Regions from separate parts of the Homo sapiens genome. Here regions 2 and 3 are each linked to region 1. The links come from fine-mapping of genetic effects on gene expression. A gene starts in region 1. Each other region holds a variant in brackets. All regions are shown on one strand. Distances are between the middles of the regions.

Region 1 (8,172 bases):
ATTGACGTCGTTGGAAAGAGAACCTCAATTGTGGGGTATTGACGTCATTGGAAAGAGAGCCTCAACTGTGGAGTATTGATGTCATTGGAAAGAGAACCTCAACTGTGGAGTATTGCCATCATTGGAAAGAGAACCTCAACTGTGGGGTATTGACGTCGTTGGAAAGAGAACCTCAACTGTGGGGTATTGACGTCGTTGGAAAGAGAACCTCAACTGTGGGGTATTGATGTCGTTGGAAAGAGAACCTCCACTGTGGGGTATTGACGTAATTGGAAAGAGAACCTCAACTGTGGGGTATTGATGTCGTTGGAAAGAGAACCTCCACTGTGGGGTATTGACGTCATTGGAAAGAGAACCTCCACTGTGGGGTATTGACGTCATTGGAAAGAGAACCTCCACTGTGGCGTATTGACGTCGTTGGAAAGAGAATCTCCACTGTGGGGTATTGACGTCGTTGGAAAGAGAACCTCCACTGTGGGGTATTGATGTAATTTAATACAATTCAGTAACAATAATCAATAAATTACTACTACCCATAACAACATGGTTGAATCTCAGAGACACTGAGGAAAAATGCACGCACACACACACAAATACACACACACATACACACACACAAATAAACACACACACAAATACACACACATAGACACAAATACACACACATACACAAATACACACACACGAATACACACACAAATACACACACATACACAAATACACACAAATACACAAATACACACACATACACACAAATACACACACATACACACAAATACACATACACATACACACAGACACAGAAATACACACACATACACAAATACACACACAAATACACATACACACATACACACACAAATATACACACACATCCACACAAATACACATACACATACAGACACAGAAATACCCACACATACGCACACATATACACACAAATACACACACGCACAGAGGGACGGGGGTTCCGTCTGCTCCCAGCCGCATTGGTTCCCCCGTGGGGTGAGCCTGGCAGGACAGGGCCAGCCCAGCGCCCAGAGACAAAGTGAGGAGACCGTGTTTCCGCCAGAGCCACAGGGCAGCTCCCCGCAGAAGCCAGTCGTGGTCCACGGTTCCCGCGTGCCGGCTCCCAATCTCTAACAGGAGCACCGCCATTTACTTCCACATTTCCTTTTTTTCTTTACTAAATATCTGATTTATTAAAATTTACATGTGTATTTGTTGCAAAGTGTGATGAGGAGCCAACAGAAACTCGGGCATAAAAATAATTCATCGTCAGATACAATCTGGGCAAAAACCAGATGGCTATGATGCGTCTGAGGAAAAATGTCAGCACGAAGATCTCGGACTGTTAGAGAAGAATGTGTTTACGAATTCTTTAAACGACTGACAGTAGGTATCAAAACCATTTTGGCATTTAGCTTCCTAGATACATTTACAGGAGTGACTAACAATTTTACTTCAAAATGTGAGTATTTACATCACACCAGAAATGACATTATTTGCCATCATTTACATGTCTGGATTTTTTAAGAAACCTGGATGTTGACGTCAACATGTGTGAGTGATTTGGCAGCTTTTCAAAATTGTTTTAGGGAAAACGAGAGCCAAGGCCCTGAAGACCCCTGCTCCACCCGCCTCAGCACGCAGCCCAGTCCAGCTGAGCGCCGACTGTGGGAGACCGAGTGAGAAGGACAAGGCCGATCCTGACAGCGTCCGGGTGTGACAAGGGCCCGGTAACCCCCTCGGAGCAAGGTCTCAGGAGAAGCATCTGGGAGTCCTACCCTGGGCCCCTCATGGAGGAGGGAGGGTGGGCAGGGCCTGGGCAGGGAGGGAGGAACCAGGTTCCTCACTCCAGCCAGGAGCCACAGTTCAGGCTGTTGCCTCTAGCAGAGGGGAACGTCTGGTGGGAAAGGGCAGTGGGGTGGGGCAGAGGATGGGTAGAGGCCATGGAAGAGTTGGAAGAGGACGAAAGTGCCACCAAGTCATGGCCCTGGACCACGGACCTGATCGTGCAGCTGGGAAGCCCCTCAGAATTCCGACACCACCACAAGCATCCTCGGGAGGAAGCTGTGCCAGCACATGCTGGGCACACAGGGCTGGCACCGAGAGGCAGGAGGGCTTGATGAGGAGGCCGTTCCTTGTGGCTCACGGAGGGCTCTTGGCCGTTTCCGCGTGGCACCCAGAAGCTGCTCACCAGCTCTAGAAGACGTGGGGCGATGAATCCAGACCCTGGAGGAACTGCGCCCTCGTCCAGCATAACTGAGGTGCCAGGACACAGGACCGACATCGCACCCTCCACTTGGGTCAAAGCTTTATCACTGCAGGCGAGTGTGCGGGCGCCCGGGACAACTCGCAAAACGTCTGGAAGTTCCCACCACTCCCCAGAACAACAGAGACCAAAGCCCACAAATCTTTAAAGGAAAGCAGCAGGTGCGTAAAAGAAAGAGCCTGCGGCCCCTGCCCGAGGCCCCTCCCCACGTGCCCAGCCCTGAGCAGCAGCAGCGCTGAGTGACCCAGGTGTGGGAAATGCCTGCTGAGGGGTTTTAGGCCGCAACAGCCGAAGCTGACACGGCCGACTCCAGGAGCCTGTGAGTTCTGCATTTTACCAACCGCATGCACGTCTTTCCAGGAGTGCTTGCCCTATGGCTGCCCCCCAAATTATGGGGTTACCTTTGCCCCCTATTCAGTGTCTATATCCTCACCCCAAGCCCGTGAGGTGACCTGGGCACTCGGTGACAAAGTCCTGTGCTTGTGGGGTCCCTGGTGCCTTCCCTTTGGGGTCACGTCAGCCCGGCGTTCCCCCGGAGGCACAAGTCTGGGTGGCAGCTGAGAGGCGTCAGGGGCACATCCAGACCTGACAAAGGAGGCGGCCCCAGCCCTGCAGCAGAGGGCCCAGGAGCCCAGGGGCTCAGCTCCAATGTCCAGGTCTGAGCACCAGGGTGCAGCGGGATCAGGCTCCTGGAGCAGAGTCTGCCTGCCACTTCCGCCTCCTTCCAAGACAGGGACTGGGGCGCTGCAGGCCCTGTGGGGCCCACAGAGAGAGAGCTCAGGGACAGCTGGCTGAGGCCACCCTCTGTGAGACTCCTCCTCTCCAGCTCCAGCCCACTCCACCTTGGCTTGCTGCCCAAGCTTCCAAACACCCAAGGATGGGGGAGGCTGCACCTGACTGCTGACTCGGTGGACCAGGGTGGGCCCCAGGGTGGGCATTTTCAATAAGGTGGGGCTGCCTGGCTGGACGCAGGGAGTCTGCCCAGCACCTGCCCCACTCCCAGCCTCCGGCTTCAGTGCCCACCTGGCTCCCGGGGAGCTGAGCCCCTGAACTCCCTGCCAGGCCAGAGTGACAGCCCGGGTGACCGACCAGGGGACAGAGTGCTGGGAATTCACGTCCCTGAACACACTGCACCCTCCCACTCTGCGGTCAAAAGCCCTGCTGCTCCTTCAAGCCAGGAGCATGGATTAAGTACCTACTGTGTGCCTGGCCAGCCACACGGACGGGGAGCTGACAGCCGGGCCCTGAAGCCGCCCTCTCTCCTGTGGGAGTTCTGGGGGTGGCCGGGGAAGGTGAGATTCTCCTCCACCCTCCCTGCCTCTTGGCCGAGCTTGGGGCTATCCTGGCTCTTCTGACCGCGGCACTACCGTGGGCCGGGGTCACCCTGGCGCTGAAGAAAGCCCCGGGGGGCCTTTGGGGCAGGAAGAGGTCAAGAGCCCCAGGACCCCCCAGGGTCCCCCAGGACCGGGGAGGGTCGGGTGCCCAGTGGGTCTCTCCGATGCCTCCAGGTGGGGATGAGGCAGCGTTATTGCCCCACCCCCAACATCCCCGGGCCTCCGAAAGACCCTCGCTCAGGAGAGACCCCGGCCCAGCGACCGCCCCGCCCCCCACCCCGGGCCCCGCCCCCCACCCCGGGCCCCGCCCGGCCCTGCCCAACGCCGCTGCAGAGGCCACCCCGGGACTGCGGCAGCCCCGCCCGGCAGCAGCGGGGGTGGGACGGGGGCGGCGGGAGCCGGCGAGGGGGTCTGCCCGTCCGAGCTTTCCTGGGCGCCGGCTCCGCCCCTCGACCCTTGGGGCCCAGGTGGGGCGCAGACCCCGTGGCTCCCCGCGGAGGCCACACGCCTGGCTCCGCCCCCGGTGCCTCCCCCAGGAAGGAGCGACGTTCCCTAGGCGCCGGGTCCGGACAGCGCCGCGCAGCCCCCGCGCACCCCGCGCCCCCCGCGCCCCCCGGGCCCGCCCCGTATCCCTGACCGCGTCCCCTGGAGACACTGCGGCAGCGGCGGGCGGGCGGGGGCGGGCGAGGGCCGGGCGCGTCTCCATGGAGCCAGGGCGCGCGTAGCCGAGCCCAGCCCAGCCCAGCCGGAGGCCCCGGGGGCGGTGCGCGGCGCGGCCGCAGGATGCAGGCCATGGACCCGGCCGCGGCGGATCTTTACGAGGAGGACGGCAAAGACCTGGACTTCTACGACTTCGAGCCGCTGCCCACCCTCCCCGAGGACGAGGTGAGCCCCCGGCCCCACTGGGGGGCCCCTTCCGCCGCCGAGGGGTCCGCGGAGAGCGCCCGGGGGGAGGACCCGGGAGGGGCTGTGAGCTCCCGCCTCCCCAGGCGCCCTCCATGGCCGAGGGGTTCCCACCGCCGTTCTCAGCCCCCGCGTTAGGATTTTCACCCGGAGGGGACAGCACCCCCGAATGCGCACGGGACGGCGGCGGGTGGGCAGCCCCTGCAGAAGTTGGTGCGCGGTAGCTCCTGGTGGAAACCCTGGCGGGACAGTGTGGGGGCAGCAAGGAGGACGGAGGGGGGTCTGCTTACTCCCTGCCGGGCCCCAGGAGGCCAGCGGGGTGCAGAGCAGCAGAGTCCAATCAGGCGCCGCTCAGGAGCTGGGGGATGAGGTCCCCGGAGCTGAGGTTCAGGAGCGGGGGGTGGGGGGAGCGCTGGATGACTGCCCCCCGAGACTGAGAGCTGCTTCCTGCTCTCTGGTTTTCCGGGCCTTCACCCAAGACCCCCCTACCCCGCAAGGTGCAGAGGGGCTCTGCCTGCCATCTGCATACCCTGGCGCTTCTGCTCATGGACCGCCCACCCTACAGCACCGGCTGCCCAGACGCCACCTTGGCTGGGTCTGACCCTGTAGCTCAGCTCTGGCTTGGCTGGGATGGAGTGGACAAGCCAGGCCCGGAAGCATGAGAGGTGGCCCCCAGGGGATACAGCAGCTCCCAGAGGGACCCTCACCCTCCAGGGATCCGAGATCTGCCAAACCTCCAACAGGCAAGAGCCCAGACGCTGGGCGCCTGCGTCTCCGGGTGACAGCGTCGTCACCTGCAGCCATTAGTGGGATGTTGTGGCGCCCTCTCTTTAAAGCCGGCCAAGTAAGCCTGGAGCAGGGAATCCCGGCTGCAGCAGCCGCGGGCCTGACCCCCTCGCAGTCCCCACCTGCTGCCCCAGGGGAGTGGGCTCTGAAGGGACCGGGAGTTTCTGCTGTGGAAGCACCGTCCTTCTGGGAAGGTTCAGCCCCAGGAGGCCCTCGGCCCAGCCACCTAGAAACAGCTGAGGCTGTGCGGGGGTTGGCGATGCCCCCGCCCCCACCATGGCCTGGATTCGGTGCAGTTGAAGGCTGCAGAGAGGAGCAGCCAGGGGAGGCAATAAAGCTTCCAAGATCACCTCGGCTCTGACCGAGAGGGAGGGGCAGCCCGCAGCCTTCAGAAACGCCCCAGGACACATCCCAGGGTATCTGTTAGGAGGCGGCCCTGAGGACGCAGCTCTTCCCACAGCTCCTTCGTGCATCAGAGGCCTGAGCCTTGAGGGCCTCCCCGCTCCGCACACGGAGGCAGCAGCCGGTGCCACGCACACAACACGCCGCGCCAGGCGCGAGCCCACTTGGAGCCACAGGCTGTCTTTCTGCACACTCCCCACTCCCGCTCCCCACCCCCACGCACACACCAGTGTCCTCGGGCCGGCCGGACAGCTCCCGGCCGGCACAGTACTGGGGTGGGTGGCTCCATCCTGTGACGTCCACCAAGGCCTCCAGGTGAACTGTCATCCCACCGAGTTTGCAGCGTGCAGTGGGAACGTTCAGGTGGGCCCTTCGCAGACACTCCTGGAAAGCATCGGGTGGTCCCTGGCCCAACCCTGTGCCCAGTACTGAGCCCAACACACCCCATGTCTCAGAATTCCCCTGGCGTTCAGACTCTGCTTCCCACACGTGTTTGGCTTGGAAGGTTCTGAAATCTCCATCGGGGCACCTGACTTGCATGGGAAAACCGTCCTGGGTGAGGTGAGGGCACGGTGAGGTTGCATCATCATCCCAGAATGCCGGAAGGCCAAGGGTGCAGGGCAGCTGCCGGGAAAGCACGGTGGCGCCAGGCCCAGGACATATGCAGGCTTCATAAGATGTAGGAACTCACTCATTCTACAGCTAATTATAATGGCTGGCTCCATGATGGGGTCAAGAAATAGACCCCTATGGACACCCACCGGAGCCCCTGGAATGTCCCTCCCTTGACATGGTCCCAAAGAAAATCCAAATGGCTGCTGAACATGTGAAAAGATGTTTGCTCATTGCAATCAGGAAAATGCAAAATACACCCCCACGAATGCCTTCCCAAGACCGCCAGGCTGGCAAGAACTGAAGAGCGGACAGCGGCTTGTGCTGGCAAGGACGGCGCAGCAGCTCTCCCTCGCGCCAGTGGGAGGACAAATGGAGCAGCCTCTTTGGAAAACAGCCCAGCATTCGCTGGTGAAGTAGAAGGCACCAGTGCCCTGTGTCCCAGCAACTTCACTATGGTGTGGGCCCCAGAGACACGTGGCCGTGCGTGTGTGAGAACACTCTCAGCTGGAACCTACCAGAGCATCAGCAAGTGGGCCAGCAGGTCCTGGAGGAAGTGACCAGGTTGGATCCCAGTACAGGCAAAGAACCACCAGTACACGATAGACAGGGAGATGTTCTGTGGGGGTGATGCAAGGAGGGCTTCCTGGAGGTGTCCTGCCCGGGATTCCCATGAGATTTCAGTCACTGTGGATGGGGGTATGGGATCTGAGGCAGAACAGTGCAATCCAGGCAGAACAGCGGCTGCAGAAGAGGCACACAGTCCAGGCGGCTGGAGTCGATGGATGGGCAATGCTGGCTGCCCCATGGGAATTCAGATGAGACGAAGAGGGTGCACCGGTTTGGGTGCCAGAGCAGGACGTGTCCCGGGTCCCTGAGAGGCAGGCAGCACTATCATCCCTCCCAGAGTTCAGCAACTGCCTCCCAGAACCTCCTGTGTGCCGGTGTCAGGCTGGGCTCAGAATCTGAGGCTGGACAGGATGCAGTTGCTCCCTGGAGGGGCACACAGCTGGGGGCTCCCAGTAAAGAAGAGGACGTCCCCGCTGCAGGGTCCATATGACATCTGTGCCAGGATGAGCTCAGAGCAGAAGGCACCTCGGGAGCAGAGGTGGTTTTGTGGTGGGGGCCTGGCAGTGTGAAGAGAGCTGTCAGGAGGCCTGGGGATTGGCAGCCAGTGCTCCCAGCTGTGATTGGAGTTTTGTATTAGTCCTGTTAGAATCCCACGGCTGAAAAAAATCAGTTGGTCATAAGACAGTGTATTTCAAATGCGCCACACGATCTAGGCGTCCCTGTGTAACCCTGGCTCGAAGTCTGCCTGGCAGTGTGGCGGGGGGTGTGGGAGCTTTCTGAATGCACAGGGCCCCTAATGGGGACCTGCCATGAGATAAGGGTCCTCGGTGGGAAGCGTGCCCTGCCCTCTGAGACCCAGGGACTGGCTGATGTGCTGCTGCCCTGGAGAGCAGCCCAGTCCCGGGGGTTCATGTCCACCTGCCTTCCCAAATCCCTCCTCCCACCTGGGATGGGGGTGGAGTTCGTGGCCACCTGCCTTCCCAAATCCCTCCTCCCACCTGGGATGGGGGTGGAGTTCGTGGCCACCTGCCTTCCCAAATCCCTCCTCCCACGTGGGATGGGGGTGGAGTTCATGTCCACCTGCCTTCCCAAATCCCTCCTCCCACCTGGGATGGGGGTGGAGTTCATGTCCACCTGCCTTCCCGAATCCCTCCTCCCACCTGGGTTGGGGGTGGAGTTCGTGGCCACACAATTGCAAAGTGGGGACCAGTCTTTCCTGTCCTGCAAGGAACAGGTCTTAGGTGGTCCCTGCTCTCAGACCTACCCCATGGCTCACCCAGGCACGCCCTG
Region 2 (8,172 bases), 29 kb after region 1:
GTAGGCAGTGTGTGCAGTGTGGAGTAGGCAGTGTGTACAGTGTGGAGTAGGCAGTGTGTACAGTGTGGAGTAGGCAGTGTGTGCAGTGTGGAGTAGGCAGTGTGTGCAGTGTGGAATAGGCAGTGTGTGCAGTGTAGAGTAGGCAGTGTGTGCAGTGTGGAGTAGGCAGTGTGTGCAGTGTGAAGTAGGCAGAACAGAGCCACACACAGCAGAGAGAGATCAACGCCGTGTGTGGGAGGCGGCCGCTGACGGCCGTAGCCACATCATCCAGGTTCTTCCTGTGGGGACTCACCTGTGTAATCCTCGAGGAAAACGACGTGCCTTTGGATGAGATAATTAGGTCCAGGCTCCCATAGGAAGCCCCAGAGGGAAGCCCCGCCTGGCCTGGGGGAGAGGCAGCCCCAGCCTCTAATTAGCCAGGATGACCTGATGAGTGGGGCAGGAGAGGAAGGCGGGAGCCCCCTCCTGTGAGAGCCTGGGTTGGGGTCTGTGATCGTGGGAGGGGAGGAGAGGGGAGGGGAGGGGAGAGGTGGGAGGGGAGGGGTGGGAGGAGAGGGGAGGGGTGGGAGGAGAGGGGAGGGGCGGGAGGAGAGGGGAGGGGCGGGAGGGGCACCCAGCCGTGACCACATCTTGCTTGTGCCCAGATGTCAGCGAGAGCAGCTGGCGGGAGAGACCTGCCCCAGGAAACGCTGGGCCCAGGAGGCCGCCCGGGGACCCCAGCACTGACCCGGAGGTTCTGCCGACCCCCGAAGGCCCGGAGTCTGAGACGAGCCGGGGCCCCAGAGCCTCCCCAACCAAGGCTCTGCTGTCCACCCCGGTGAGAAATGGCGAGAGCCACAGCCGGGAGGGGCTGGCCGGCCTCGTCCTGGATGCCGAGCGCACCCTCGGGGAGCTGGACAGAGACGCCCTCAGGAGAAGCCGCCTGCGGAAGGTGCAGACGTTCCCTAGGCTGCTGTCCGACAGCCCCGAGGCCACCCTCTGCCTGCCGCTGACCCGCGGGAAAAGCCAGCTGCCCATATCGGAATTATTCTCTCCGGACCCCAGGAAGGCCTTTCTGGACAGGAAAAATGGCCTTTCTAGCTTCCAGGCTCAGCCCAAATGCAGGCTGTGGCCGGAGCAGGAGCCGGAACACCAGCTGGGACGGGTTCCCTGTGCAGGCCGCAGCACGGACAGGGGCCCTGGGGTGCCCGGCAGTCCAGGACAGCCCGAGACTTCACACCCCAGCCAGGGGCCAGCAGAGGCCCCTGCAGACCCTCGAGATGCTAGCGGTGAAGCCCAGACTCCCAGGGACGATGAGAGAATTCCAGAAGGAGCTAGGCAGCTGGAAAGTGCAGCCGCGGAGCAGGTGGGTGCCTGGGTCTTGTGTGTGGGTGGAGGGGTCGGCGGTCAGTGAGTCCGGGGCCGGGCCTCTCCACAGATGCAAACGCTTTGTTTAACTCAGAGAATTAACCTTCACCCTCGCTCCATAATTAAAGACATTTTCATTGAGCTGCCCCGTTTCTGAAGGAAGCTGTGGCTGCGGCTGGGGATGCTGTCACCCAGGCGTGGCCTCTCGGGTAGACGTTTGCCTCTGGATGACCCAGAAAGCAGCCGCCTCCTCAGCCCTGCCCGGCTCCTCACACAGCCCCGCACGGCCGTCCCGAGGGATTAATTTTCTTCCGGGAAGCAAGGCCAGCAGCCCCGGCTCCGTGATGTCATTTCAGGGGCTCCGTGTCCCCAGTCCTGATGCTCACAGCCCTCCTCATCTTCCTATTCTGACGGTTTAAAAGTTAGAAACCAAAGCTGTGGGTTGAGCTTGCTCATCTGTGGGGCTTGGTGGTGTCGGTGCTGGGCCACCTCCGCTGCCTCCGCGGGGACGCTGGGATCTGGTGCGGCTGCCCGGACGTGGCCTCCACACAGGATGGGGCCTCCCCAGCCCAGTGCTGCCCCTGGTCAGCTGCTCCTCACGAGGGATGGAGGATGCTGTTGGAGCCAGTGTTCTGGGGGGCCTGGTCCGTCGGCCCCTCTGTCCAGCCGAAGACGCTTGGGCCAAGGCCTGGCCAAGTGCATTTTGCCCTCCTTGGCTCCTCAGTGAGCCACCCCCAGCTGTGTCCCCGTGAGCTCCTCCGGGCAAGGTCACCTGAAGTCAGTGGCCTGCATGCAAGTCCATCTGCCAGGCAGCGCCTGGCCCGGGGACGGGGGTGCCCTCAAGCCACCAGGCCTCGTTGATCTGAAGGACAAGGGCGCAGTGCCCCGTCGCCCTCCACCACTCTCCCTGGCGGCACGCCTTCCCACGCACAACAGCCTACCTTCCCGAAGGGCACACGGAGGCACAGGGTGGCCGAGCCACCTGTTGGAGGGTGGACTTTGGTCCCAGCTGTCCGTGAGGCCTTGGAGTGGAGAGTGGCCTCCCAGGCTGAACGCATGCCTGGTGTCACGGTGTGTGTGTATGTGAGAAAATGCACCGAACAAAAGCCACCACTTCAACCCTCTGCAAGAGCACAGCTCAGCGGCATTGGGTGTGTTCACGCTGTTGCACAGCTGTCCCCATCAGCCCACACGAAACCCCAACCCCCGAGCCCGCCCCCTGCACCCCGTCCCGCCCTCCACCTCCATGAGCCTGGCCCCTGCACCCCGTCCCACCCTTCCCCTCCATGAGCTCTGTCCAGGGGCCTCGTGGGAGTGGGATGGACAGAGCTGTGTGTCTGGTCTCTTCACTGAGCCCACTGTCCTCACGGTTCCTCCCCAGGGAGCCTGCGTGAGAACCCCCCATCCCTGTCCCGAGGCCAAGCGCCATCCACACTGCCCCTGCGTCCGTCCGTGGATGCCTGGGTGCTCCCCGTGTTGGCTATTTCGAGCCGTGCTGCTGGGAACATGGGTGTGCACGTATGCGTGAGCCCTGCCCTCGGTTCCTCGGGGAATGTGGCCGTGTGGAACTGCTGTCACCTGGGAGGTGTATGTTGAGCTTTTCAAGGAACGGCAGCACTGTCGTCTGCAGTGGCTGCACCGTGGGACGTTCCCACCCACAGGGCCAAGGGCCCCAGTCTCCCCACGGCCCCCACACGCTGGAGTTGACTTAGGGACCTCCCTAGCCCTTCTATCAGGTGTGGGGGGCGCCTACTCAGGGGCTGAGTGGGCCTCACCCTGGCCTGTCCCCCGGACATGCCTCTCCAGGCGGCGGGCCCTGGCAAGGGGTGTCCACACTGACCTCGCCGCTCTCCTGCCCACAGTGGGTGTCCCTGCAGGACCTCCTGTCCCAGCTGGGCCGGCCCTTCCGGGAGTACGAGCTGTGGGCCCTGTGCCTGGCCTGCCTCCGCGCACTGCAGACACGCCCTGAGCACCCAGGTGACGCACGCACCATCCCATCCCCCCCGCCGTCCCCACCCCCCACTGCTGTTCCACCCCCCACCGCCGTCCCACACCCCCGCCGTCCCACCCCCCACACCGTCCCACGCCCCCCCACTGTCCCATCACCCCTGCCGTCCCATGCGTAACTGGCCCCCACCTGAACCAAGGGACCCAGGGGCAGCCAGGACAGTGTCTCCGGTGAACGGAACAGGCGGCTCCCGTCTGGAGCACCTTGTGGGTGCCTGCTGGGTTGCAGCACCGAGGGAGGTGTGGGGACAGATGCCTGCAAGGTGGGCCTTGAAACCGGTGACTGTGCCGTAAAGAGGAACGGGGACTTTGCCATGGCCCTCGCCCACACATTCTCAACACAGTGACATTGTCCCCAGGGAGGCAGCAATTGGCTTTGGAGTGGGGAGGGAATCTTCAGCATTGCACGGGTCTGCCCCGTCAAAGCCTAGCCCTGCCAGACATCAGGGCAGACGGACGGTGCATCTGAGACGTAAAAACGTCCTGGGGGTGATGAGGGCAGCATCTGAAAGGGCTGGGGGAGAGGCCATCGGAGACACACCCGGCTCCAGTGTCCGTCCACCGTGAGCCCGTGGCTGCCCCGTGGGCCCTGACTCGGGACGGGGCCTGTGACACGGGGGCTTCAAGTTACCGTGTTCTCCCTGCCGCTTGGCTCCCTTTCAGCCGCAGATATGCCGCTGCAGCCACTGTGTCGGCTGGGGCAGCGCTACCCTCGGGGAGGGCTGGGAGGAGGCAGCTCCGAGGACCCCGGGGGCTGGGGTCAGGCCATGTGCGTGCACTGGCAGGTGCGTGCCCGTGCAATGGGGAGGCTGGGGGGCTGCCCGGCCTGACTGAGGCTCCGCAGCTCCTTCCCCCCAGCCAGCCCCAAGTGCGGGGCAGCATGCATACCCGCCCTGACCCAAGCTCTGCCACAGCCTACCTGTGTCTGGACTCCGTGCTGGTTGCTGAGGACGGGGCTGTGCTCTTCCAGCCACCCCCTGCCAACGGTGAGTGTGTGGGTTCCCCTCAGGCCGAGTCCAGCACCGGCTCGCCAGGGGTGAGGAAAGCTCAGTCGGGTTTCTCTCTTAGGTTCCTATGACTCGTTCTTTCTGGCTCCCGAGCTGGCAGAGGAGAGGCTGGTAACTGAAAAGGTACCCGGGCCCTCCCCACCCTGCCCCAGCCCTGCCCCCAGCCCTCGGGGATGCCACGTCCCCCATCTGTCCAGCAGCCCCCCATCAGGACTCGAGGGAGTCAGGGCAGCCCTTCCTGGCCAGGCGGCCACAGGCGGTATCTGCCAGCAGGGCCGTGGCTCTGGCCGGGGCACCAAGACAGGGCTTGGTGTGGACGGCACTGGCCATGTGCACTAGAGCTGCGCCTCCTGGCT[C/T]ACGAGAACTAAGGGCTAAACAACCAGGGATGTGTATAAGGCACCTGTGAAACATGAGCATTCTTAAAATTTAAATTACACAAATTTAAATACAATTCAATAAATTACATTCAAAATCAAGGTAAAACTTCCACTCAGGAATGATAGAAATGTGTACTTCCCGCTCCTCCCACCGAGGAAGAGCACTAAGTACCCTACACTAAGCACCCTGCACTAAACAAACACCCTGCAATAAGCACCCTGCGCTAACCACCCTGCATTAAACACCCTGCAGTAAGCACCCTGCACTAAACACCCTGCACTAAGCACCCTGCACTAAACAAACACCCTGCACTAAACACCCTGCAGTAAGCACCCTGCACTAAGCACCCTGCAGTAAGCACCCTGCACACTGTGCAAAAAACAAGCACCAGGCCACCTGCAGGGGGAGGAGACGGCAGCCGGCGAGGGGCCTCTGGACCAAGGAACAAGGCAGCCGTGAGTGCCCTGGGTTTTCCTTCTGCCTCACATATTGAGACTTGGAGGTAAAGAAGCCGGTGACCGGGAAAAAGCAATGGGCGCACACTAAAAGCCGCGCTTTTTCATCTTCTGGGGATGTTGTCTAGAGAAACTCGGAATGGTCCACCATTTGCCAAACCATCGAAGGCTTTCCTGCAGTCTAGCCTGTAACGAAAAGAGGCTGTCCTGAACCCCAGCAATAGATCGTTCACCTTTACACCAAGAAGGCTGGGAAAGCACTGTCATCTGCAGGTGGCCCAGGCCGACCTCAGGGGGTTGGTGCTGTGAGACCTGAAGCTCTTATGAGATTGTCTCAAACAAAAACCGCGTCCGTGAGGCTGCAGTGGCTCTGTGTGCACTGTGTGTGTTCCTGTGGGATCCCTTCAGGGTTAGTGCTTTCCCCTTCAAGGAACGAAAATCGCTGGGAAAGTGCTGAGGCACAAGCACAGAGTCAGAAAACTAAGAAAAAATGAAGCTTTTTGGAGTAATAAAAAAGAGTTTAAGCCCCAACTGGCCGGGCATGGTGACTCACGCCTGTAATTCCAGCAATTTGGGAGGCCAAGGCGGGCAGATCACTTGAGTCCAGGAGTTCGAGACCAGCCTGGGCAACATGGCGAAACCCCATCTCTACTAAAAATACAAAAATTAGCCGGGTGTGGTGGCACGTGCCTGTAATCCCAGCCAGGTGTGGTGGCACATGCCTGTAATCCCAGCCAGGTGTGGTGGCGCATGCCTGTAATCCCAGCTACTCGGGAGGCTGAGGTGGGAGGATTGTTTGAACCCAGGAGGTTGCAGTGAGCCAAGATCATGCTACTACACTCCAGCCTGGATGACAGAGCCAGACCCTGTCTCAAAAAATAAATACCCCAACAGGGCCGGGTGTGGTGGCTCACACCTGTAATCCCAGCACTTTGGGAGGCCAAGGCAGGTCGATCACCTGACGTTAGGAGTTTGAGACCACCCTCGCCAACATGGTGAAACCTCATCTCTACTAAAAATACAAAAATTAGCCAGGGGTGGTGGTGTGCACCTATAATCCCAGCTACTTGGGAGGCTGAAGCAGGAGAATTGCTTGAACCCAGGAGGCAGAGGTTGCAGTGAGCAAAGATGGTACCACTGCACTCCAGCCTGGTTGACAGAGTGAGACTCAGTCTCAAAAAAATAAGTAAAACAAATGCCCCAACAAAAGCCTGGGTCTGTAATCAGAGGACCAGGGAGGACCAGGATGCATTTACACCCCCTGCTCTGCACCAACCAAACCCCACAGGAGCACTGCGGCCCCGCCCAGCAAGGGCCGAGCCTGGAGCCTGGACTCATCTTTGTGAGACTGCAGAGAAGTGTCCAGTGCCTGCCCTGGCCCCAGGTGGCCTCAAAGAAAGTGAGCAGGAGCCAGGACCTTCCTTCCCTGCAGCGTGTCCTGCAAGGACAACTGGAAATCATGGCTGAAAGGAATTGGAGACCACACCAGCAAGTGGAAACACATCCCATGCTCACAGATGGGCAGGATCAGTGTTGGTAAAACAGCTACACTGCCCAAAGCAATCCGCAGAGTCAATGCTATTGTTATCAAACTACCAATGTCATTTTTCACAGAATTAGAGGAAACTATTCTAAAATTCATATGGAACCAAAAAAGAGCTGAAATAGCCAAAGCAATTTTAAGTGAAAAGAACAAAGCCAGAGGCATCACGTTACCCAACTTCAAACTATACTACAAGGCCACAGTAACCCAAACAGCATGGCACTGGTACAAAAACACATAGACCAATGGAAGAGAATAGAGAGCCCAGAAATAAGGCTGCACGCCTACAATCATCTGATCTTTGACAGAGCTGACAAAATCAAGCAATGGGGAAGGACTCATGATACCAAGAATCAGGAAGATGTCAAACTGAATGAAAACAGGCAACCAATGATACCAACCTGGAGATGACAGAAATTTTAAAAGTGACTTTAAAATTTTTAAAGCAACCATCATAAAAATGCGTCATTGGGCAATTGCAAACACGCTTGAAACAAATGAAAAAGTTTCAGCAAAGAAATACAAAGTTTCAACCAAGGAATAGAAAAGAAAAAGAAAAAGCTAATGGAAATTTTAGAGCTGATTTTTTAAAAAAACTCAATGAATGGGCTTAATAGCAGAATAGAGAGGGCAGAGGAAAGAATTGGTGAAATGGAGACAATAGAAATTACACAGTTTGGACAACAAAGAGAAAATAGACCAAAAGAACTGAACAGAGCCTGAGAAGCTTGTGGGACTATAATAAAAGATCTAATATCCATGTCATCAAAATCCTGGAAAGAGAAGAGAAGGAGGGTGGTGCATAAAAAGTACTCAAAGAAATAATGGCTGAAAACTTCCAAATTTTGGCAAGACACATAAGCCTACAGATTTCAGAAGGTGAGAAAACCCCAAACATGATCAATGCAAAGAAATCCACACCAGGACACATCATAGTCAAACCTCTGAATACTAACCCTCCCCTCTCCGAAAAAATAAAAATAAAAATAAAAAACAAAAAGAGAGAGAAACAGCAGCTTACATATATACACATATGGGGGGGGAAAACAGTTCAGATGATCAGATTTCTCATCAGTAACTGTAGAGGAAGTGCATAGCATTTTTTTAAGTTCTGAAAGAACTTTCAACCCAGAAACCTATTTCCAGCAAAAATATCCTTCAGAAATTAAGGAAACAGGCTAGGTGCAGTGGCTCAGGCCTGTAATCCCAACACTTTGGGAGGCTGAGGCAGGTGGATCACCTGAGGTCAGGAGTTTGAGACCAGCCTGGCCAAGATGACGAAACCCTGTATCTACTAAAAATACAAAAATTTGCCAGGCATGGTGGTGGGTGCCTGTAATCCCAGCTACTTGGGAGGCTGAGGCAGAAGAATCACTGGAATCTGGGAGGTGGAGGCTGCAGTGAGCCCAGATACAGCCATTGCACTCCAGCCAGG
Region 3 (8,172 bases), 62 kb after region 1:
ACCTGCCTGGCCAATATGGTGAAACCTCATCTCCACTAAAAATACAAAAATTATCACATCTGTAATCCCAGCACTTTGGGAGTCCAAGGCGGGCAGATCACGAGGTCAGGAGTTCGAGACCAGCCTGACCAACATGGGGAAACCCTGTCTCCACTAAAAATACAAAAATTATCACGCCTGTAATCCCAGCACTTTGAGAGGCTGAGGCAGGAGAATCACTTGAACCCGGGAGGTGGAGGCTGCACCGAGCCGAGATCGCGCCACTGCACTCCAGCCTGGGCCACAGAGCAAGACTCCATCTCAAAAAAAAAAAAAAAAAGAGTCGATCCGGGGCATGGCGTCCAGCTGGACTCTGCAGCCTTGGTTTCCACCAAAGGATGGCCCAGGCCAAGGTGATTCCTCAGGGACAGGCAGCTACAACAGGAGGGGTCAGCTGAGTTCTCCAGAATCTTCCTGAAGCCCTGGAAGTGGATCCAGGAACGCAGCCCTTTGGGACTGCTCAGAATAGGAATCCTGCTGGGTGAGGCATTCACCACCCATGGGGTGTTCCAACCAAGGCCAGCAAGGTCGTCACCGCCAGCCACAGAGCCCCGGAGGAGGGGGCGGCACTCAGGCACCCACCCCGGACTGCACCCAAACACTCCTGCCACGGGCTTGGCGCAGCGGGTTGGGGGGTGGGCACGGAGCTGCCTGTGGCTCCCCATCTGCCTGTGGACACGACAGCGGCCTCTCCCTGGGTGGGGTCGCCTTTCCCAGTCCTGAAGCTGCCTGGGGAGGTGCATCCAGGCACAATCTTGCTTTTGAGAAGTGAGGGTGGACTTCTTTTCAAGTCTTTCCGCGTATCAGGCTTTGCTTTTATTTTGTTTTATTTCAAGTCATGCCCACCCCGTCCCGCCAGCCCAGCCCCTCCACGGCCACCGCTCACCTGCGTCCACACAGCCGCTTCCTTTCCACACACGTGATGCAGCACACGCTCTTGTGTCTTGGAGCTGGGTGATTTTAACAGGTTCTCAAATATTCCCTTTGTTCATCTTAAACCAGAAGACGCTGAATGTGTCATTTTCTTATTGCAGCTGCAGGTGAACTTGCTGTCCAAATTTTTGCTGATTGCAAAATCTTGCTATGAGCAGAGAAACTTCGCGACAGCCATGCAGATCCTGAGCGGGCTGGAGCACCTGGCCGTGAGGCAGTCCCCTGTGCGTCCCCCTCGGGCCCCAAGGCGGGGGTGGGTACCCGCACGGCCGCAGGAGGCTCACCTGTGCTTTCATTTCAGGCCTGGAGAATTCTGCCTGCAAAGATAGCAGAGGTCATGGAGGAGCTGAAAGCCGTGGAGGTACCAGCACTTTACGTGGCCGGGCGGCTTTGGTCCCCCGAGGCCCTCTCCTAAACGAACTGCTGTGCAGAGCCTGCCGCACCCAGACGCAGGCACCACAGAGTGTGTGCAGGTGGCCCAGCCAGGGTGGCCTCACGGAGGCCTTGGAGTCATCTCCCGGCAGGGCCTCTGTTGCCACCTGGGCAGAGGTGTCCCACCTGCTCGGTCCCGGGGCCTTGCTGGTCTGAGTTCCTCACACAGAGCACAGGTGCCCAGAGGACAGCACTGAGGTCTGTGGCTGGGGCCTGAGCTTGACCGACCTGGACCTCCTCCAGGACGGCAGGGGTGGCCTCATGAGATGATGAACAAGGAATTGCTGCTGGAAGTGACCAGCCATCCCCAAACATGACTCAGACGAGTCCCAGAGCAGCCACAGCCTGTCCCCGTCTTGGGTCTCAGAGCTCGGCCTCAAGCCCCAGCCACAGCTGTCCACGGGTGGGACGGCTCCTGCATGTCTTTGCTGGACACGCAGACACGGGGCCCTGCTCTGGTCAGCCGGGGTCTCATTTAGGGAAGCTGGGTTACCTGGCACTTCCTGGAGTCCAGCAGAGAGCAAGGAAAGGGACTCACCATTTCAGCAGCAGGAGGCACAAAACCTCCCAGCGGCTGTCAGGGCCGTGAAAGCTTAAGACCCCGCAGGTGTGAGCCAAGTCCAACCATCCAGGAACATTCGGGACTGGAAGCTAATTCAGAGAGCCGGGTAGACCCCGTGCGTGGAGAACGCAGGACCCGCTGGGACTGGTTGGGCTGCGCTGGCCCCGGCTGAGGCTCCTGCACTGACCACGCCCTGTCTCTCCCCGGCCCACGCCCCGGCTGGACCACCAGGTCTTCCTGAAGAGCGACAGCCTGTGTCTGATGGAAGGGCGGCGCTTCCGGGCGCAGCCCACCCTGCCCTCGGCCCACCTCCTGGCCATGCACATCCAGCAGCTGGAGACAGGCGGCTTCACCATGACCAACGGGGCCCACAGGTGGAGCAAGCTCAGGTGAGGAGGGGCTCAGGCGGCCGCGCGCCCAGGAGAGGAGGGGCTCAGGCGGGCGCGCGCCCAGGAGAGGAGGGGCTCAGGCGGCCGCGCGCCCAGGAGAGGAGGGGCTCAGGCGGCCGCGCGCCCAGGTGAGGAGGGGCTCAGGCGGGCGCGCGCCCAGGAGAGGAGGGGCTCAGGCGGCCGCGCGCCCAGGTGAGGAGGGGCTCAGGCGGGCGCGCGCCCAGGAGAGGAGGGGCTCAGGCGGGCGCGCGCCCAGGTGAGGAGGGGCTCAGGCGGCCGCGCGCCCAGGTGAGGAGGTGCTCAGGCGGGCGCGCGCCCAGGAGAGGAGGGGCTCAGGCGGCCGCGCGCCCAGGTGAGGAGGGGCTCAGGCGGCCGCGCGCCCAGGTGAGGAGGGGCTCAGGCGGCCGCGCGCCCAGGTGAGGAGGGGCTCAGGCGGGCGCGCGCCCAGGTGAGGAGGGGCTCAGGCGGGCGCGCGCCCAGGAGAGGAGGGGCTCAGGCGGCCACGCGCCCAGGTGAGGAGGGGCTCAGGCGGGCGCGCGCCCAGGAGAGGAGGGGCTCAGGCGGCCGCGCGCCCAGGTGAGGAGGGGCTCAGGCGGGCGCGCGCCCAGGAGAGGAGGGGCTCAGGCGGCCGCGCGCCCAGGTGAGGAGGGGCTCAGGCGGCCGCGCGCCCAGGAGACGAGGGGCTCAGGCGGGCGCGCGCCCAGGTCAGGAGGGGCTCAGGTGGCCGCGCATCCAGCAGAGGAGGGGCTCAGATGGGCGCATGCCCAGGTGGGGCACGCTCAGGTGGCACCTCTCCTCCTGTCCTTGCTTTTCAGAGGCCTGGGTACCTTGCCCCTCACTTGGCACTCACAGCCTCAGACCTCCCTCTACCCAAGATAACCTCCAGCCACCTCCTTCTCTGCAAATCTGGAGCATTTCCTGCACTTCTGCTGTCCATGGTCCCAAAACACTCCCCGTGGTCTCTAGGGACCCCTGTGTTGGGACCCAGGCACACTTTCCACCCCACCCTGAGGGTCTCTGCAGCACAGAGGCTGCCCGGCAGCAACCTGTCCTGACCGCTGGGTGCCACAGTGTCCCTGCTCCCCTTGAAACCCCTCTCCCTAGAGACATCCAGGTGGGACCCAGGATCAGTCCTCAGCCTGTTCCTGTGGTCCTGCTGTCCACCTGCCCAGCACCTGGGACCAACTACCTTGCACACCACCTGGGAGGCGCAGACTGGGGCTGGCTGTAAAACCTACCACCACGACCCACAGGGCTCACACCCCAGGCCACACAGGCTCTTCCACCTGGTAAGGCACAGGGGCCAGCCTCTCCTTGGAGCCCCAGGCCTGTGTCCGATGACCCTCAGGTGCCCACAGCCCCAAGCTCGGCCTCACTCTCTCCCTCAAGACACAATCTCCCACCCTCCCGTCTCATCTCATCGCCTGCCGTTGTCCACACACGGTCAGGTGGAGGCTGCCCAGGCCACGGCGGCTCCACCCTCCCCCACGGTAGATGGCCTCACTTGGGGAGCAATGCTCAGCGGACCAGGTGCCCATGGATCCTCAGCCTGATAGGTGAAGGTCCCCTTCTTAGATAGCCACCAATTTAAAAACAATAATTATAATATGCCATAAATGTATGCTTATCGTAAGAGATCAGAAAACCCATGTCAGCAAAAGAGAAGTTAAAAACTTAAGGTAGGCCAGACGCGGCGGCTCACGCCTGTAACCCTAGGTAGGCCGGGCTGGGTGCAGCCACTCACGCCTGTAACCCTAGGTGGGCAGGGCTGGGTGCAGCCACTCACGCCTGTAACCCTAGGTAGGCCGGGCTGGGTGCAGCCACTCACGCCTGTAACCCTAGGTGGGCCGGGCTGGGTGCAGCCACTCACGCCTGTAACCCTAGGTGGGCCGGGCGCGGTGGCTCACGCCAGTAACTCTAACACTCTGGGAGGCCGAGGCGGGCGGATCACTTGAGGTCAGGAGTTCAAGACCAGCCTGGCCAACATGGTGAAACCCCATCTCTACTAAAAATACAAAAAATTAGCCGGGCGCGGTGGCGGGCGCCTGTAGTCCCAGCTACTCGGGAGGCTGAGGCAGGAGAATGGCGTGAACCCGGGAGGCGGAGCTTCCAGTGAGCCGAGATCGCGCCACCGCACTCCAGCCTGGGCGATAGAGCGAGACTCCGTCT[C/CA]AAAAAAAAAAAAAAACTTAAGGTGATGCTCAATCAGGAAAGAAAACAAGCCAAGAGTGGCACTTGCTCTCCACAGCGTCCACGTGCGTATGTGAGCGCCTCCAGATCTGCCCTTCTCAGCATCCCCATGTGTGTGAGAGCCCATCCAGGCATGCTCTTCCCGGCGTGTGTGTGTGTGTGTGAGAGCCCATCCAGGCATGCTCTTCCCGGTGTGTGTGTGTGTGTGTGAGCCCATCCAGGCATGCTCTTCCCGGCGTGTGTGTGTGTGAGAGCCCATCCAGGCATGCTCTTCCCAGTGTGTGTGTGTGTGAGAGCCCATCCAGGCATGCTCTTCCCGGCGTGTGTCTGTGTGTGTGTGAGAGCCCATCCAGGCATGCTCTTCCCGGCGTGTGTGTGTGTGTGTGAGAGCCCATCCAGGCATGCTCTTCCCGGCGTGTGTGTGCATGAGAGCCCATCCAGGCATGCTCTTCCCGGCGTGTGTGCGTGTGCGTGAGAGCCCATCCAGGCATGCTCTTCCCAGTGTGTGTGTGTGTGAGAGCCCATCCAGGCATGCTCTTCCCGGCGTGTGTGTGTGTGTGTGAGAGCCCATCCAGCCATGCTCTTCCCAGTGTGTGTGTGTGTGAGAGCCCATCCAGGCATGCTCTTCCCGGCGTGTGTGTGTGTGAGAGCCCATCCAGGCATGCTCTTCCCAGTGTGTGTGTGTGTGAGAGCCCATCCAGGCATGCTCTTCCCGGCGTGTGTGTGTGTGTGAGAGCCCATCCAGGCATGCTCTTCCCGGCGTGTGTGTGTGTGAGAGCCCATCCAGGCATGCTCTTCCCGGCGTGTGTGTGTGTGAGAGCCCATCCAGGCATGCTCTTCCCGGCGTGTGTGTGTGTGAGAGCCCATCCAGGCATGCTCTTCCCGGCGTGTGTGTGTGTGAGAGCCCATCCAGGCATGCTCTTCCCGGTGTGTGTGTGTGTGAGAGCCCATCCAGGCATGCTCTTCTCGGCATGTGTGTGTGTGTGTGTGTGAGAGCCCATCCAGGCATGCTGTTCCCGGCGTGTGTGTGTGTGTGTGAGAGCCCATCCAGGCATGCTCTTCTCGGCGTGTGTGTGTCTGTGAGAGCCCATCCAGGCATGCTCTTCCCGGCATGTGTGTGTGTGAGAGCCCATCCAGGCATGCTCTTCCCGGCATGTGTGTGTGTGAGAGCCCATCCAGGCATGCTCTTCCCGGCGTGTGTGTGCATGTGTGTGAGAGCCCATCCAGGCATGCTCTTCCCGGCGTGTGTGTGCGTGTGTGTGAGAGCCCATCCAGGCATGCTCTTCCCGGCGTGTGTGTGTGTGTGAGAGCCCATCCAGGCATGCTCTTCCCGGCGTGTGTCTGTGTGTGTGTGAGAGCCCATCCAGGCATGCTCTTCCCGGCATGTGTGTGTGTGAGAGCCCATCCAGGCATGCTCTTCCCGGCGTGTGTGTGTGTGTGTGAGAGCCCATCCAGGCATGCTCTTCCCGGCGTGTGTGTGTGTGTGAGAGCCCATCCAGGCATGCTCTTCCCGGCGTGTGTGTGTGTGTGAGAGCCCATCCAGGCATGCTCTTCCCGGCATGTGTGTGTGTGAGCCCATCCAGGCATGCTCTTCCCGGCGTGTGTGTGAGCCCATCCAGGCATGCTCTTCCCGGCGTGTGTGTGTGTGTGTGAGCCCATCCAGGCATGCTCTTCCCGGCGTGTGTGTGTGTGTGTGAGAGAGCCCATCCAGGCATGCTCTTCCCGGCGTGTGTGTGTGTGAGAGCCCATCCAGGCTTGGCCTTTCTTTGCCGTAATGGACGCCCCTTTCTTTGTCCCTCACACTGGGCATGTGGTGTTTCCATCCAAAATCAGGACAGGGCGTCTGTCTGTGGCATCAGTGTCCCCAGGCCTGGCTGAGGGCTCCTGCTCGTGACTGGCCAGCTTTCTCCATTATATTCTATGGTGTGCTGGTCACTGTCAACCAGCTGTCCCAGGCTTCCGGCCCTGGGCCCCGGCCGTGGCGATTCCCAGGTGTGAATGTGAACGCTCTGCACGGCAGCAGAGAGTCCCTTGCCTGCCTCGTCCTCTCAGCTGCAGCCCCTGCGGCAGACTGGGCTTGACTCTTCTTGGGACGCTCAGCAGGGACGAGCCTGAGCCTGCAGGGTTTCCATAAGCGTGTGTGGACTGAAATGTGGATGGATGGACAGTCAGACAGACGGAAAGGTCTGAGTAGTGACCTTTCCACCTCGCCAATAAATACAGACAACCCACCCTTCAGAATTTACACGGTGAAAAGATTTAGTCCAAATGATTCCTAAGAACGCGGGGGGACTCCCTCCCCACGGAAGCCGCGCCCCTGCCCTGTGCAAACTAACGTCTCTTCTTTCCTCAACGGAAGGAACATCGCAAAGGTGGTGAGCCAGGTGCACGCGTTCCAGGAGAACCCTTACACCTTCAGCCCCGACCCCAAGCTCCAGTCGTACCTCAAGCAGAGGATTGCCCGCTTCAGCGGTGCCGACATTTCCACACTCGCCGCAGATAGCAGGGCCAACTTCCACCAGGTCTCCAGCGAGAAGCACTCACGGAAGATTCAGGACAAGCTACGGAGGATGAAGGCTACATTCCAGTAGCCGAGCTCGGGCCTGGTGTGGAATTCCAGATCCGAATCCGACTGTGGGGGGCGGGCTGGGAGGTGGGAGCCGCGTCTCAGGCCCGGCCGTTATCAAGGCCCCTCCGCCCCCGAACCCTGGGGAGCTGGACCAGGAGGTGGAGGCTCAGGGGACCCCATGGGGACAGGCAGAGCTGGTCTCCTCCCAGCAGACGGAGCCAGGACGGGCACAAGAGTCTTGGAGGTTTGCGTGTTTCTGCTAGAATTAAAAAGTTAAATTTAAAAATGAAAATGAAAGACAGCTTCCCAGGAGTTTTGTGCCTGTCTGCGCCTCTCACACACAGATAAGTGGCTCTTACCCAGCTCTCAGTGACTCCCCCACAAAACAGCAACAGCCTCCACCGCCAACTCAACAAACTTCAGAGTAGCTCCTCCCTGAGCAGGTTTCTGAGCCAGCCTGGGTTGGCTGAGCAACGAAGGGCCAAAGCTGACCTCTGAGTGGCCAACTGCAGCTCCCAGGGACTCCGAGACCTCCGGTCCGAGACCCTGCCTGGGTTCACCCCCCACAACCCAGACCCAGAACCGCTCTCCCCTTCCCTGCCCAGTGCCCCTCCTCCCCAGCCCAGACCCCCAGGTGCCCAAGGCCTGCTGCTGGAGCAGGCACCTTGGGCTGGGCCTGCTCCCCCAGGGCCCAGGGCCCCCCAGCTTAGAACAGCCCTTGGTGAGGTGGTCATGCCCGGGCAAAGGCCCTGCTTCCTGGAAAGGACACTCAGAGCAGCTCCAAGACAGAGGCTCTGTGGCGGGGGTCCCTGAGAGTGCCCCCACCCATCTCATGCCCCAGGGACCGCCACTGCCCACCGCCTCCAGCAGCCATGCATGTGCGCCCGCAGCCCTGCCTCCACAGCTCGCCACACACTCACGCTTCGCCAGAGACAGGAAGTGCGCTGCCTCCACGGCCCCTTGCCCTTGCTCAGGTTCTTGGACCCCAGGCAGCTGGTGTGGAGCCCCTTGGCCAGGGCCATGGGAGTCCCGCGCAGTCAGCTCCACATTGGCCTCTGCAG

The links. PIP is the estimated chance that this variant, and not a neighbour inherited with it, causes the effect. A credible set is the group of variants that fine-mapping cannot tell apart.
Region 2: its variant is the best candidate, but not a certain one, in a credible set for the expression of KNDC1 in whole blood (TOPMed, PIP 0.77).
Region 3: its variant is the best candidate, but not a certain one, in a credible set for the expression of KNDC1 in whole blood (INTERVAL, PIP 0.67).

The regions. Positions count from the first base shown.
Region 1 is chr10:133,156,076-133,164,247 of GRCh38, forward strand. KNDC1 (kinase non-catalytic C-lobe domain containing 1) reads left to right here and starts at 4,144. Exons shown (of 30, transcript NM_152643.8): 1 at 4,144-4,494. The coding sequence starts at 4,393. RefSeq lists enhancers at 4,515-5,104, 5,105-5,695.
Region 2 is chr10:133,185,330-133,193,501 of GRCh38, forward strand. KNDC1 (kinase non-catalytic C-lobe domain containing 1) reads left to right here. Exons shown (of 30, transcript NM_152643.8): 6 at 645-1,345; 7 at 3,210-3,324; 8 at 4,269-4,340; 9 at 4,423-4,484. Among named protein-coding and RNA genes, the nearest start is that of KNDC1, 29 kb to the left of the region's middle. The variant C/T (reference allele first, on the strand shown) is at 4,718.
Region 3 is chr10:133,217,758-133,225,929 of GRCh38, forward strand. KNDC1 (kinase non-catalytic C-lobe domain containing 1) reads left to right here. Exons shown (of 30, transcript NM_152643.8): 27 at 1,074-1,196; 28 at 1,274-1,333; 29 at 2,198-2,355; 30 at 6,902-8,172. The coding sequence ends at 7,133. LOC105378573 (a long non-coding RNA gene) reads right to left here and starts at 1,080. Exons shown (of 5, transcript XR_007062351.1): 1 at 926-1,080. RefSeq lists an enhancer at 7,338-7,961. The variant C/CA (reference allele first, on the strand shown) is at 4,525.